2 linked regions of the Homo sapiens genome follow. The protein of the gene in region 1 interacts with the protein of each later gene in a pairwise test. Each region holds a gene or a part of one and is shown on either strand. Other genes may lie near its edges.

Evidence for each region.
Region 2: the proteins of RGS3 (region 1) and DEPDC1B interact in a two-hybrid assay, tested with the Homo sapiens proteins (one study listed by BioGRID).

What each region holds. Positions count from the first base shown.
Region 1 is NC_000009.12:113,459,028-113,467,040, reverse strand, and holds the start of RGS3 (regulator of G-protein signaling 3), read right to left. Parts: upstream 3,315-8,013; 5' UTR 3,239-3,314; coding exon 3,160-3,238; intron 1-3,159. UniProt on the Homo sapiens protein: Down-regulates signaling from heterotrimeric G-proteins by increasing the GTPase activity of the alpha subunits, thereby driving them into their inactive GDP-bound form.
Region 2 is NC_000005.10:60,689,817-60,697,379, reverse strand, and holds part of DEPDC1B (DEP domain-containing protein 1B), read left to right. Parts: intron 1-7,563.

The sequences.
Region 1 (8,013 bases):
CTGCTACAACATGGATTAAACTTGAAAACATTATGCTAAGTGAAAGAAGTCAGTCATAAAAAAAAAAATACGATTCCATTTATATGAAATGTCCAGAACAGGCAAATCTACAGAGGGAGAGAATAGATTAGCAATTGCTTTGGGCTCGGGACAAGGGAGGACGGTACAAGCTAAAGAGCATAATGTCTCTTTTTGAGGGAATGAAAATGTTCTGAAATTGTGATAATAGTTACACATCTCTGTGAATATACTAAAAACCATTGAATTGTATGGTTTAAATGAGTGAATTGTATATATCTGAATTATATTTCAATAAAGCTGTTACAAGAAAAATCAGCAAATATCCTAATCAAAATAAAATATACAATCCTGGAGAAAAATATTATGTATACCTACAATGACTTCAAATTACATCATTTTTCACAATAAAGAAAAAAAAATCCCTCTAGAGTAGTTGGGTCCTAGCCTCAGCTTGCCTACTCCCTTCCCCTGAAGTAAGGCCACCTCCTCAGAACGCAGTGTCCTTCAATTAATGTCACTTGAACATACTCCTTTTGGGGGACAAGGGGTTGTGTTCATGTGTACACACAAATACATATATCATGCAGTACTCTCCCCGAAGGGAATTCTCATCAAAACAGTTTTGTCTCTTTATATTTCCATAGATGATTATGCTCCCTTTACATGTCTGTGCTCAGGAAACTACCAGCTAAGCAACATCTTCATCTGGTTCTACCAAGGCAAAGCTCACAGTAGAAGGCCAGGGGCTACCTACTTTGCTAAGGAAAGGCCAGTGAACTGAGAAAAACTTAGCCAAAACCTTCACAGTAAAAGTGGTCCCAATTGCTACCAAAACTGACTCTGAATCCATAGCTTCCAAACCTGGATGACAGTCTGAACGCTCTATGGCTTCTTAAGTGTTCATATTCTCAGGCTCCACCCCAGACCTATTAAACTAGAGTCTCCAGAAGAAGATTCTAGGAATCTGTGTATTTTTAACAGGCTCCCCACATGCTTCTGATATTTGGCTGGGTTTGGAAACCACTGATAGGAATCTTTGCTCATAAGCAGATCAGTGAAGATCACAGTGGATAAAGAAAATCAGCAGCCTGAAAGAGGGGCACCACGACAAATGGCACCCAGGGAAACAGAGCCAGTGCAGGAAACAGGAGAGAATTTCTCAAATGCTCTCATAAGCATCCTTAGAGAGATGTGAGAGGAGCCTGCACGAATAAGAGCAGGTGGCTTCCCACCCCACCCAGGCTCCTGTCTGCCTCCTGCACACTCAGGTCACAGTCACTTGTTCAAGCAGCAGCCTTCCCTGATACCCATCAGACTCAGCCCTGAGGCCATGGCTGGGCAGGAAGATCCACTCCCTGCTGGGCCTGAACCCTCCTCAGCTTCCCAGATCTGGCAGGCAGATTAATCTAATAGAAGAACATGGACCAATGCAAGGAAATATTCACATCAGGCCACTAAGGAAAACATATGGGTTACAAAATTGTCCATACAAACTTGATCTCAATTGTGTTGAAATTTGACCCCTAAATACACACAGGCACACACACACACACACACACACACACACACACACACACACAGAAATAGGTGTGGAAATAAGCCTGGGAGGATATAAATCAGAAAGTTAACAGTGGTCTCCCTGGGAAGTCAGATTACAAGTGATTTTCACTTTCTTCTTTTCACTAAGTTTTCAGCAGTAAACACATGTAACCATGATAATAAGGAGGAAAAAAGCAAACATATTTTTACTTTTTAATCAGGACACAGCTAAGGTAAGAGGGCCTCACAGCTCCCTGACACCCTTTCCTGATCACTCCTACCCCAGCCAATACAGATCATCCTGGAAACCACCCTTGTCTCACAGAGCCCTGCATCCCAATGGGGTTAGCAGGAATTGCCTCCTACGCTGGGGCATTAAGTGAGATAATGCAGGTAAAACACTTGGCATAAGGAATGGCAATGGTAAGTTCTCAACAAATGATGGCTAGTTAATTGCCCTTTATCGTCCACCAACTAGACCAGTGAATTCCTGCTGCCAGACGTCAGGCAATTTCAGAGGCCAAGCCACTGCTCTTCCATCATTCCCTCTACCCCTAAGGAAAAAAAGCAGGTTGTGGAAAACCAAATATGTTGAGCAGGAGTAAGCCTGAAAACAGAAGAGCCAGGAACCCCAGGGAGGGACCAAACTCCTTGGGCACTCTGTCTTTGAAAGCTGGGCAATGTCCAGTAATGTTTCAGTAACAGCCCCAACCTTTAGAAGGAAATTGTATGCAAGTTCAAACAAAAATGCGCTGGACAGGTCATCTCTGGAAAGCTTGAGCTCAGCTACGAACTCTGCCACTGGCTCATGGAAGATCTCTTGGTTTCAAGTCTTCACAGAGGAAAAATAACCCCTCTCCACAGAGAGTTGCAGGACCAGTGAGGAAATGAAGGGTTACCCTCAAGGGTAGGGTTGTTACCTTTACTATGGCTACCAGGAAGGCCAGGTTTGCCCAGACCTTTGGGCAGCTGCCGCCCAGCTGTTATTTGGGGGAACTCAGTCTGCTACTTAGGGGCTTGGGAGTGAAGCCTACTGTTCACTTCTTTCCACCTCAAACCCTGAGGCAGCCCTGGGACCCTCCTAAGGGATTGTTCTTTCTTGGAGGAGAGAATTCTCCCATCTCCACTGTGGCTCAGATACCCAACAAAGTCAAATTGCAGCCTCCCCACAAGGCAGCAGGGCCAAAGGGCCCAGCACCTGTCCGCTCCCTGAGCCAAAGGAAAGTGGGTGAATGAGATCTCCAGTTGCTATAACAAGACCTTGATTTAACCTGAGCTGCTTGCTAATGAGAAACTCCGTGGTGACAACCCAGGTCTCTGAAAGATTAACCAGAGCGTGATTATTCCAGCCAAGTGAGGCAGAACCAACCGCAGTTGGCACTCATGGCCGGGCAGCAGGTGGTGTCCAGCAGCTTGCTTGGACTGAGCCTGTGCCCTGAGCCCCTCCTGGGCAGTCACAGGAGAAAGGGGCCAGAGAAGGTGCCCCTAGATAGAAAGAGCACCTGCTCCCAGCCTCCCCTGTCACCACGAGGGGCTGCGTTTCTGGGCGCTGGGAGCAGGGTGAAGCAGCCCCTGCCGCCAGCCCCAGCGGGCACTTACCAAAGGTGGTGAGGTAGAAGGACAAGTCCGGGTGGGCACGCCGGCTCCCGAGGGAGACGCGGTGCAGGGAGCGCTCCATGGCGTCCCACTGCGACCCGGACAGGAGCGTCTGCAACCCGAGGCGGCTGTGTTGCTCCCCAGTAACCGGAGTCTCCAGGGCGGGAGGAGCGCGAGCGGGAGGTAGGGCTGCCCCAAGCGTTGGAACGGCCAGGGCGCGCCCGGCCCTGATTGGCCCGCGCGGGTTTGAATGGGGAGAGTTCCACCTGCCGGAGCAGAGCTGGGCCGGGGTGGGGGAGGCGGCGCCGCCGACCCGCGCTGAGCAGCGACGGCAGCCACCCAAGGAGCCAGCAGGACGGTGCGGCCACCCCGGGTATCCCGGCCCCAGCACCGCGCTCCCGGTTGGAAATGCCAGTCCCACGAGAAGGCCCAGTCCGGGGTGCCCACTCTGGGCAGGCTTGGCCTCCTCGTCCAGCTCTCCTAGACCAGCAATTAGTCGGGTTTATAACCTGCTTTGAAGCTCAGGCCTATAATCATTAGATCCAAGCAAAGGCAAAGGAGCACCCGATGGCCCAGGGCAGTGAGGTTTGGAAAAGTGTTCTCTGCGCTTGGACAGGTCGCCCCCCACCATGCTGCATCCTCTTCCCAAACCCTGCATCCTGGATCACTCTCTTGAGCCTCCTCTTGAACAAGTGCTGCCTGACACAGGTCCGGATGGGAGCAGCTTGCTCCAACCAACCTGATGGCCCCCCGTCCCACAGCCTGATGCCATCGGACAGCAGGACAGGCCCACAGCCTCTGAGAAAGAGGAACGCACAGGAAACGGAGTGGGGTGGGTGAATCCCCCAGCCTGGTGCGGGGAGGCAGAGCTGGAAGGTCAAACCCTGCTTTGCTGCTTTGTCAGCAAACATTTACAGGACACCTCCTCGTAGCAGTTTCACACCAAGACATCTGCTCTGCAAATCTCTGTTGCCACTGTGGGAAGGAAAGCTGTTAGTCTCGTGTAAATCTAAAAATGGGAAGTGTTGGTATTTGTCCCTGTTCCCCAGACTTCATCGCCAAGTGGATATTTGTGGTTCAGTGATCCACTCAAAAACAAGATGGGGAGATGCAAGACAGAAAGTGGAGAGAAGAGTTATGTGTTGAGTACCAGATGCCAGAGGCTGAGCTGAGCTGGGCAATTTACACACATCATCTCAGTTAATCTTCACGGTAAGTCTAATAAGTATTAGCCCCAATTTACCAGGAAGAAATCTGAACCTCAGGCAGAGAAGACAGGTGACATGCCCAAGGTTTGCAGAGCTAGGAATAGGCAGAGCTGAAATTTGAACCCAGGCCTGTCTGCCCCAAACGCCATTGTCCTATTCTTCCTTGGCCTCCACATCTGCCCCATGGCCAACAGCAGGTGGAAGGAGCAAACGCCACAGGGTCAGGTGGCCACCAGCGAGGAGCAGAAACTGCAGAAGGAGCCCTGAATCAGCAAACTGGTGATAAATCACATAAATGCCGTAGGATTGTTTGAATCCTGGCACTTCGTGAAGTCCTGCCCTGCTCTTTACTGCACCCCCCCACCCCACCCCACTCTCCCCCTCCAACCCCGGTTACACACACACATGGTGAACACTGCCTTTAACAAGAGCAGGTCCACTCTCCTAGCCTCAAGCCAGTGACAGATGGACTTACCTGCACCCTGGACTTTGGCATGCGTGATCCTCTTCCTGGCTGGAGAAGTTTGAGTCCACTCATCTCTTCTGGGCAGAGCGATATCAGGGCTTAGCCACTCCATCCAGCCAGGGAATATGGGCAAGCTCAGGCTCAAGCCACAGGATGTAGAGAGGACACTGAGCACAGAGACGTGGCAGACCTGCAGGAGCAAGATGGGAGCATGAGTTAGCCATGGCCTGAAGATGCTCCATGCAAGGTGTGTTCACTCCCAGTAGGAACTAGAAAGCATGGTGTTCAGGAAACAGCAAAGGAAGGCCCACAGGGAAAAGGGAAGGTGATGTGCCTGAGATGATAGTCACCTCTTCACAACTTCGCCAGGGACCACTGTAGAGCCTCCTCCCAAAGGGGAGACTATCTTGGGCTCCAGAGGCTGTGAGCAACCTGCAGGTACAACACTCAGGACGGTGAGATCCAGAAAGAAAATTGGGCAAAGGTGTGCTGTCTGAATGTGACCTAGGAGAGAAAAGACCGAGGCCCACACTGGGCACTTACACCCGGTAATGGGAACAAAGATTCTACTGCTTTGTAGGTCCCCTCCTGACTCCTGCCCCACTCTGCAGCTAACATATTCAGTTGGAAGATTGCAAGGCCAGCCTGATCCTGAGCTGGCCCCTCTGATGGTATCACCTTCACCACCACCAGTAAGGCTCCTTTACTCAGTAGCGTGCTGGAAGCTTCCTTTTCCTAAAAGGACAGGTCGGTCACCCTTTCCTCAAGAGATGGAGGAGAGAGGTGAGTGGGAGCTTGGGCAGGGCACTTCAGGAGAGACTGGCCCTATTAACCCACACTGCTGTCCAAAAGCAACATCCAGAAAGGCTCATGATCATGGCCCTGCTTTCCCCAAGAAGGCAGGAGAGTTGGACCAAGCCTGGCTTTCTCACATGTCCTGAGCATTCTAGCACCCCCTGGGGTTCTTCCACCTCACACATGTGCACACACACTCCACACATACATTATCATACCACACACGATAACAATCATACACTCTGCACACATACATACACATACCTCAACATATCCCATGTACACACACAGTCACATCATATGCACATATACACATACATAAACACACTACATACACACCTCACATACATATACAAACACACCCCACACATTATATATGCATCCTATGCATATATATAAGCACACATCACACTGACACATGCACACAAAACACATACACTACATATATACCATATGCATATATACAGATTGATTTGAAGCACTTAATAAAGTATCGAGCAATGATTTTAGGCATTTTTTTAAAGACTGACTATATCTGGAATAATAAGGAATACTTGAGTTTGAAAAGAAGGGACTAAATGGATTTATTTGGGTGCATTTTCACAATAACTCTCAAAGAATCTTAGTGACTTTAAGATATCATCTAGCCCAATAATAACCAAGAAAACTTAGAAAAATAATAACAAAGGGAACTTGTACTACCAGATGTTAAATGGTGTTAAATAATATAAAACTAAAAAGAAAAGACAGATCGATGGAATTAGAGTAGAAAGTTCAAGGGGATAATTTATTTAGAAAATAACAAAGATTTAAAGTGTTTTAACTAAAAATTCATTTCAAAAAGTTAGAAGAGGAATAAGCTAATTCAGAAGAAAAAAAAATTTTTTTTTTTTTGGAGACGGAGTCTCACTCTGTCACTCAGGCTGGAGTGCAGTGGCGCAATCTCGGCTCACTGAAAGCTCCACCTCCTGGGTTCACGCCATTCTCCTGCCTCAGCACCCCCCGAGTAGCTGGGACTACAGGCACCCGCCAACACGCCCGGCTAATTTTTTGTATTTTTAGTAGAGACGGGGTTTTACCTGTTAGCCAGGATGGTCTCGATCTCCTGACCTTGCGATCTGCCCATCTCAACCTCCCAAAGTGCTGGGATTACAGGCATGAGCCACTGCGCCTGGCCAGGAGAAAATTTTAAAAGGAAATAAGGTTAAAGGTGAAATTTATCCTCAAAAAAATAAACTTCAACAATAAGACCAAAGCCTTGTCTCTGAAAAGTTCAGTAAAATAGACCTCTGGCAAAATGTATACAGAAAACCAGAAATAAGCAAGTTTAGGGAAGAGAAAGCCAAGATATACAGGTGATTTTTTTTTTTTTTTTTGAGAGAGTTTCTCTCTTGTTGCCCAGGCTGGAGTGCAGTGGTGCGATCTCTGCTCACTGCAACCTCCGCCTCCCAAGGTTCAAGCAATTCTCCTGCCTCAGCCTTCCGAGTAGCTGAGATTACAGGTGTACACTACCATGCCCGGCTAATTTTTTGTATTTTTAGTAGAAAGGTGGTTTCACCATGTTAGCCAGGCTGGTCTCAAACTCCTGACCTCAGGTGATCTGCCCACCTCAGCCTCCCAAAGTGCTGGGACTACAGGTGTGAGCCACTGAGCCCGGCCTCTTTTTTTTTATTTTTTTTGAAACAGAATCTCGCTCTGTCACCCAGGCTGCAGTGCAATGGCACAATCTCAGCTCACTCCCAGGTTCAAGCGATTCTCATACCTCAGCCTCCCAAGTAGCTGAGACTACAGGCACGCGCCACCACACCTAGCTAATTTTTGTATTTTTAGTAGAGACAGGTTTTCACCATGTTGGCCAGGATGGTTTCGAACTCCTGACCTCAAGTGAACCGTACACCTTGGCCTCCCACAGCGCTGGGATTATAGGCGTGAACCACCGTGCTGGCTAATATTTTAAATTATAAGAGAAAACCACTGCAACCTTATTGTATAAATTTGAAAATCTGAAAGGAACTGGATGATTTTCTAGAAAGTATTAATTAGTAAAATTGATAAAAAGTTTGAAATTTTTAATAGATCACTAACTATAGATAAAATAGAAAAGGAAACCAAAACTCTATTCGACAAAATTATAGAAAATCCAGATAGTTTTAAGAGGCTAATTCTATAAGATCTTCAAGAAACAGATGATGCTAATGTAGTTTTAACTATTTCAGAACATAGGAAAAAACAAAGATGTGTCAGCGCTAGGTAGAAAGCTAGACAAAGACAAAAACCAAGTAAGGTTAGAAACAGAAAACTATAGACCAAAGGTAAAAGATAAAAGTAAGAATAGAAGTTAATTAAATAGAAAATATACAATAGAGGCTGGATGCAGTGGCTCATGCC
Region 2 (7,563 bases), on another chromosome or scaffold:
TATTGGGATACAAAAACTAGGCCTTTATTTTCTCCTTTCATGGCTCACTTTACTTTCTCAAAGCATGTACAGCTTTAGAAAAAGCTCTTTGGTGCTTTTTCTAAAGCACCAAAGTCTTATTTGAAAATAACATTTTGTGGATTAGGTAAAATGTTATGACAAAAGTCAAATGACAGCCCCAACTCATGATAAATGTGAAGCTAGTTATCCATTTATACATTTTCACTGAAATAACTTTCATCTTTGTAAACTTGGTATAAATAGTTCATTCAAGTAGAGAGAAAAATTTTTTTTCTAGAAACTGCTTAAATCTTTGAACTTATTCTGAGTTATATATATGGTCTGATGCAACTGATAAATTTTAAAAGACATACAGCTTTCATTGAATCTGAGAGTTAGAATGGCAAGATCACACAACGAGGTTGTGGCAAGTGCAAGTAGATCTAGGAGTGGTTGTCACTGAACTCCCAGACCAGTCAGTTTTCTTTATAGCACCGCTATCATAATATTTTTGGTACTAAGAAGAAATGAAATGGAATATCCTGGAGAAAAGAACAGGATGCACAGCAGTAGGTGTATGTCTTATAGTTTGCCTCATCATGTTAAGAAAAAACAATTGTGTGATTTTATTTTTTCCTGAGAAACTAGGGGACTGAAATTAATAAGTAGAGCAAAACAAAAAGTGTTTTAAAATCATAAAACAAATCTGTTTTGTTCCATTTGTTGTAAAGATTCTCTTCAAATATAATGTCATGAAAAAAAAACTCAAGCTCTTTCTTGTTATTTATTGACAGAGGATATTTTGTTTCCAAAAGTGACTGAGAATGGTATATTGTTAGATTATTTAAAGATACTTATTTTTCTTTCTGAGCAGAGTAGCCAAATAACCCCTTAGTTATATTTGGAAATAAGTGGGAACAGAGACCAAAGTGACCTCAGTAGGCTTTAAAAAATCTAAAGTATTTCATATATTAAGGAAATATAACCCATAATGATAAATGCCATTCAAAATCAAAATGAGTAAATTCAAAAGTCTATTTATAAATGCTCTTTTTAAAAGGGGCAATGAGACTTTGATAAAGATGTTTTATTAGACATTTTCTAGTATGAAATAAAAGTCAGTAGCAATAGAGCAGTTAATCCATTCTGAATCCTAATGGATTTTTTTTTCCTGTGTGGGAGAATGCAATGAATTGAAAGCTCATGCTGAAGAGTAAAATTCTGAGAACTGAAAAAAGTTTTCCCTCACAAAAAGAAATGAACTTCACAAAAAGAAATTTTCACGCTGGGTGCGGTGGCTCATGCCTGTGATCTCAGCACTTTGGGAGGCCGAGGCGGGTGGATCACGAGGTCAGGAGATCAAGACCATCCTGGCCAACATGGTGAAACCCCGTCTCAACTAAAAATACAAAAATTAGCTGGGTGTGGTGGCACATGCCTGTAATCCCAGCTACTTGGGAGGCTGAGGCAGGAGAATCACTTGAACCAGGGCGTCGGAGGTTGCAGTCAGCCGAGATCACGCCACTGCACTCCAGCCTGGGCACCAGAGCGAGACTCTGTCTCAAAAAAAATAAAAAAAGAAAGAAGTTTTCACATTCCCTTACAAAGAAGACAGGGGCCTTGTCCTACCAGGGATTTATACTTGGTATTAATTGACTGTAATGACAACTGTATGGTATTACACAGGAACAGATAGTCGCTCAGTGGGATAGAAACAATCAAGAAGTGTGATATGTAAGGTTACTTAATAATATTTCTGTTCATTTAGAAAAGCATGGCATAATTGACTCTTGATATGGTTTGGACGTTTATCCCCTCCAAATCTCATGTTGAAATGTAATCCACAGTGTTGGAGGTGGGGCCTAGTGGAGGTGTTTGGGTCACTGGGGCAGATCACTCATGAATGGCCTGTTGCTGTCCTCATGACAATGAGTGAGTATTCACTCTGAGTTCATGTGCGATCTGATTGTTTAAAAGTGTGGCACCCTGTCCCTCACTCTCTCTTGTTCCCCCCTTGCTGTGTTATGTGCCTCCTTCTGCCTGCTTCCGCTTCACCTTCTGCCTTGAATAAAAGCTTCCTGAGGCCTCACCAGAAACTGAGCAGATGCTGGCACCATGTTTCTTGTACACTCTGCAGAACCGTAAGCTGATTAAACCTCTTTCCTTTATAAATTACCCAGTGTCAGGTATTTCTTTACAGCAACGCAAGAATGGACTAACACAACTCTCCATCCAGAAAAAAATAGAGATCCCCTGCCTCCCACCATATAAAATTCAGTTAAAGGTTTACATATTAAAAAACATACCCTCTAAAATATTAAAAGGAAATTTTGATAAATATTTTAATACCTCAGGATAGGGAAGCTTTCTTAAGAGAATAAACCCTGAACTGATAAAGAAAATAGATAATTATTTCCTTATAAAAACATCAACATCTACAACAAAATCATTGTATAGCTAGAGACTATGTAAAGAAATTGATAGGCTAAGATAAAACATTTGTAACATATAACAAAAAGGTTTAATATTCTATATTCATCAGTACATATTAAATGGGTATACTATATGTCAGGCACTGGTCTTTGTTGTGAGGATATTGAGCTGAACAAAATCGATTAACTTTCCTGACTTCTGTGCCCTTTAAACATTAACAGATTAAACAGTTCTTAAAATTGATTTTAAAAAAGAGATAACCCAATAGAAAAATGGCAAATCTCAGAAGAAGAAATGAATATGACTAAAGGTAAAGATATGAAAATGCAAACAAAATATGGATCTATCATTTCTTTTACATAGATTGGCAGAAATGAAAGAAATGATAACATCTAGTGTAGGCCAAAGTGTAAGGCTTTAGGCTCCCACATTGTTGGTGGAAGTGTGAATTGCTACAACTGATTTAAATATGCTGATACTTTTTAGAAGTCTATCAAAAGTAAACAAAAGCCTTGGTACTTTAGGTTATATAAACAAGTATAACTTGTAACATATTTGTAAAAATTGAACTGGGCAGAACTTGGATGACCATTTGTTAGAAAATGGCAGAATAAATTATGGCACATTCTTAAGAATGGGCTAGATCTGCAGGTATGACGCAGGGAGGTATCTGTTAGGTGCAAAAGCGTGTTTTAGGATAACATATACAACATGATTGATCTCATTTTTTAAAATGGCAAACAACAATAAATGACACACCTACAAAGGAAAAATTCTGTCTATGTGTCTGTATGTGATAGGTATGGAGTAAGACATGCAAACTCTTTTGTGTATACTTCTGTATTTAATTTGTTTGTTTCAATGAGTGTTATTACTTCTGTAATTAAAAGAACAACAGAACTGCTAACCAGACTGGGTCAATTAGTGGATATACCTAGTGATATTTGGAAATATTGGGTCCCAGAGAGCCATGCCTTCATTATGTTTATGTAATGCATAAGGTATTATGCATTAGGTAATTTTAGTTCATGATTATGATTGTTCAACCAACATAAACAAAAATCTTTTTTATTACCCCTTCCCCCGGCCCTACATACTTGATTATGCCTTTTCGGTACAACAATCTAATGATAAATGAAAGCTAGGTATCAGGGCATGTATTAAAAAAATCAATAATCAATGATTAAAAATATGTGAAAATTGTTTAAAGGTATGGTAATATCCATAGGTACTTGGTATAGTGAAATGACTACTTGAAGAAAAGTCCGTAGCACAGGATTCCAGATCTTATTCACAGACTAAGTACCTGAATGACATTTGCTAAGTTGTGTATCCTGCTAAGGTCTTGATTTTGTCCCAAAGATTTTTTCCAGCTCTAGAATAGATTGAACCTTATAATTTAAGAGATATCCTGGACATTTTATATATTATCCTTAAATTTGAGGAACGCATTTTTAACAAAGGACTTTTATAGTCATGATCTCATTTGATCTTACAATAACCTTGTAAAGTGGGTGGATAGGTAGAGAAGTTAAATCAGCGTTCTTGGACTCTTTATGGGCTTCCTTTCTACTATTCATTATTTAGCCTTTGCTCTGCTTTTCCTGTTTACATACTTTCCCTCCTTCATCCACTCACTTGGTTTCTTCTCCAACCTCCCTACTCTCTTCCACATCCAGTTTACCACCCCAACCAACCAGTTCATATTTGCCAACTTTCATGTGGGTAATAATTTTAGTATGTGAACATGTGCATATGTGTATGTATGTGTTTTTGTTTTTAGGTGTTAATTAGGCATAATGTACAGAAAAATGCTCAAAAAATTTGTTGAGTTGTATAAAAAGTGTACAACTCAACAAATTTTCATAAAGTGAGCATCCCATGTAACCAACATTCAGATCAAGGAATATCATATTACTAGCACCGCAGAAGTCTCCTTTCCCCCACTTGGTCCCTACCTCCTTATGAAGGTAACTGCTATCATTATTTTAAATATCATGGATCGTTTGGCCTGCTTTTGAGCTTCAAGTAAATGGAATCATATAGTATTTACTTTTCATATGTGGCCTGTTCATCTCAATATTATTTTCTGAGATTCATTTATGTTATGGCATGTAGCAATAGTTCGTTCATTTTCACTGCATTCTATTGGTGAATATATTATAACTTATTATGTTGATGGACATTTGGGTTGTTTCTGCCTATTATGGATAGTGCCATTATGAACAATGTGTCTTTTGGGGAGCATATATATGGATTTCTGTTGGGTATATGCTTAGGAGTAGAATTGCTGAGTTATAAGGTGTTCAGATATTTAGCTTTTGTAGATATTGCCAATCTGTTTTCCAAACTGGTCGCACCAATTTACATTCCTTACAGCAGTGTATGAGATTTCTAGTTCTTTCACATTCTTACCAGCACTTAGTGTTGCCTACCTTTTTTCTTATTTTTTAGGTCTCTAAAAAAAATTTTAGTTTTGTAAGTTGTAAACTGACAAATTATAGTTGTATATATTCATAGGGTACAAAATGATGTTATGATTTACGAATTCAATGGAATAATTAAATCAAGCTAATTACCATATCCATCACCTCAAATACTTAACATTTTTTTGTTGTACACTTGCAATTTACTCTCAGATTTTGAAAGTACATTATTATTAATATCTTCACCATGATGTCAAGATATCTCAAATAAAAAAGATAATTTCCTGTCTAGTTGAGGCTTTGTACCTTTTGACCATTATCTCCCCGTTCCCCACTCCCCTCAGCCTCTGGTTACCACCATTCTGCTTTTTGCCTCTTTGAACTCAATTGTTTTAGATTCCACGTATAAATGAGAATAGGCATTATTTGTTTTTCTGTTCCTGGCTTATTTCACTTGGTATAATGTTCTCCACTTCCATCCATGTCGTTGCAAATGACAACATTTCTTTCTTTTTTTAAAGGCTGAATAGTATTATATTGTATATGTATACCACATTTTCTTTATTCATTTATCTGTTGATGGACTTTTAGGTTGATTCCATAACTTAGCTCTTGTAAATAGTAAATGACATGGGAGTGCAGACATCTCTTTGACATCTTGACTTGAAATGTTTTGGGCAAATACCCAAAAGTGGGATCAGTAGATCCACCTGTCTTTCATTTTAGTTATTCTGACAGCCATGTTGTGATATTGACTTGTCGAGTTCTTTTACATTGCACTGATAATTAATGAGGTTTAACATCTTTGTATATGTTATAGGACATTTGAAGATCTTTTTTTTTATGATATACCTGTTTAAATTTTTTTTTCATTTTGTAATTGGAATGTCTTTTTCTTATTGATTTTTTTTGTTTTGTTTGGAAATGATAGATATATCTTATCCTACTCAGTGGCTTGCCTTGTTTCTGTGTGTTTTTAAGTTAAAAAAGATTTTAAATTTGGACTAACTTAATTTGGAGCATGACTCACAACAGTGTCAAAAGAAGTAGAAAGATTAACGTAAGAATAAAAAGCTATTTCAGTTTGGCCAGGAGGAAGACATGACTAGCAATTAGTGGGATTAAATTTCTTGAGGTTGAGAAGTTGGTTAAAAAAAGTAGAAAAAGTGCTGGGTGTGGTGGCTCATGCCTGTAATCCCAGCACTTTGGGAGGCTGAGGTGGGTGCATTACCTGAGGTCAGGAGTTCAAGACTAGCCTGACTAACATGGTGAAACCTCATCTCTACTAAAAATATAAAAATAAGCTGGGTGTGGTGGCGCATGCCTGTAACCCCAGCTACTTGGGAGACTGAGGCAGGAGAATCGCTTGAACCCGGGAGGCGGAGGTTGCATTAAGCTGAGATCATGCCATTGCACTCCAGCCTGGACTATACGGTGAGACTCCGTCTCAAAAAAAAAAAAAAAAGTAGAAAAAGTGAAAGATCGATTAAGCACTTGCTTATTGACTACCTAGTGTGGGTCACACACTGTGCTACACATCCGGGGTACATGCATACACAAACCCCACTTCTGTCCCTCAAGCTCCTGCTGTTGTATGCTCAGGAATTATGAATGTGGCTGAGAAGGTTAGCCATCAAAAATAAAAGAGAAATAGGATAATAGTTTCTCAGGTGGTTGGGCAGCAGAGAGTATGAAGAGAAATCTGGAAGAAAAGTCATGATTAGAAGGGAAAACATGACCCAAGGTTGGGCAAAAACAAACAAACAAGCAAAACAAACAAAAAACAACTCTGAGATCAGAAATACAGTTTAAAGAAAAAGATGACGTCAGAAAAATCTGATTTAAATAGGAAGAGAGGTGAGAGACAAAAGATTCGGAGTTTATAAAGTGACAGACTTGAAAGAGAAGAGTAAGAGAAAATGAGAATATGACTATGAATTTTAAGGACTTTAGGAGGACTGGCAGGGAGCCTACGTTCCTAAAAAGATGTTGAAATAATTATGTAGAAAGAAATTAGAAATATGTTACACAATAAAAGTTGCCTTATATTCCTTCTTCAAAAGAGATGACTTTCCTTTATTTTTAAGTTTGTTGTATATTCATTTAGCTTTTCATATGCATATACCAAAGCAGATAGGATCAGATTATATATAGTGTTTTGTACGTTTTTCTTCCACTTTGTTATATTTATGGTATCTATTTCTGTCTGGAACTATTGATAGTATTTTGTTTTGTGGCTATTCCACGCTTCAGTCAATTTTATTCAAATTAGTTCTAGTTTTTCTCTGATTATAAAATGGCAAATTAGTTCTAATTTTTCTCTGATTATAAAGCATAAATATACTTATGTTTATAAGTATATAAAATGCTTATAAATGCTTTCTCTGAAAAAACACTTCAGGTTTATTAAATATAATTCAACATGTTTAAATAAAATTTAACTTGTAAATACTTTTATCTTTCTTTGAGACAGGGTCTTACTCTGTCGCTCAGGCTGGAAGGCAGTGGTGCAATCATGGCTTACTGCAGTCTTGACCTCCCAGGCTCAAGTGATCCTCCCACTTCAGCCTCCCCGCTCAGTCTGCCAAGTAGCTGCAGCTACAGGCACACACCACTACACCTGGCCAATTTTTAAATTTTTTGTAGAAATGGGGTTTCCCCATGATGCCCAGGCTGGTCTCGAACTCCTTGGTTCAAGTGACCT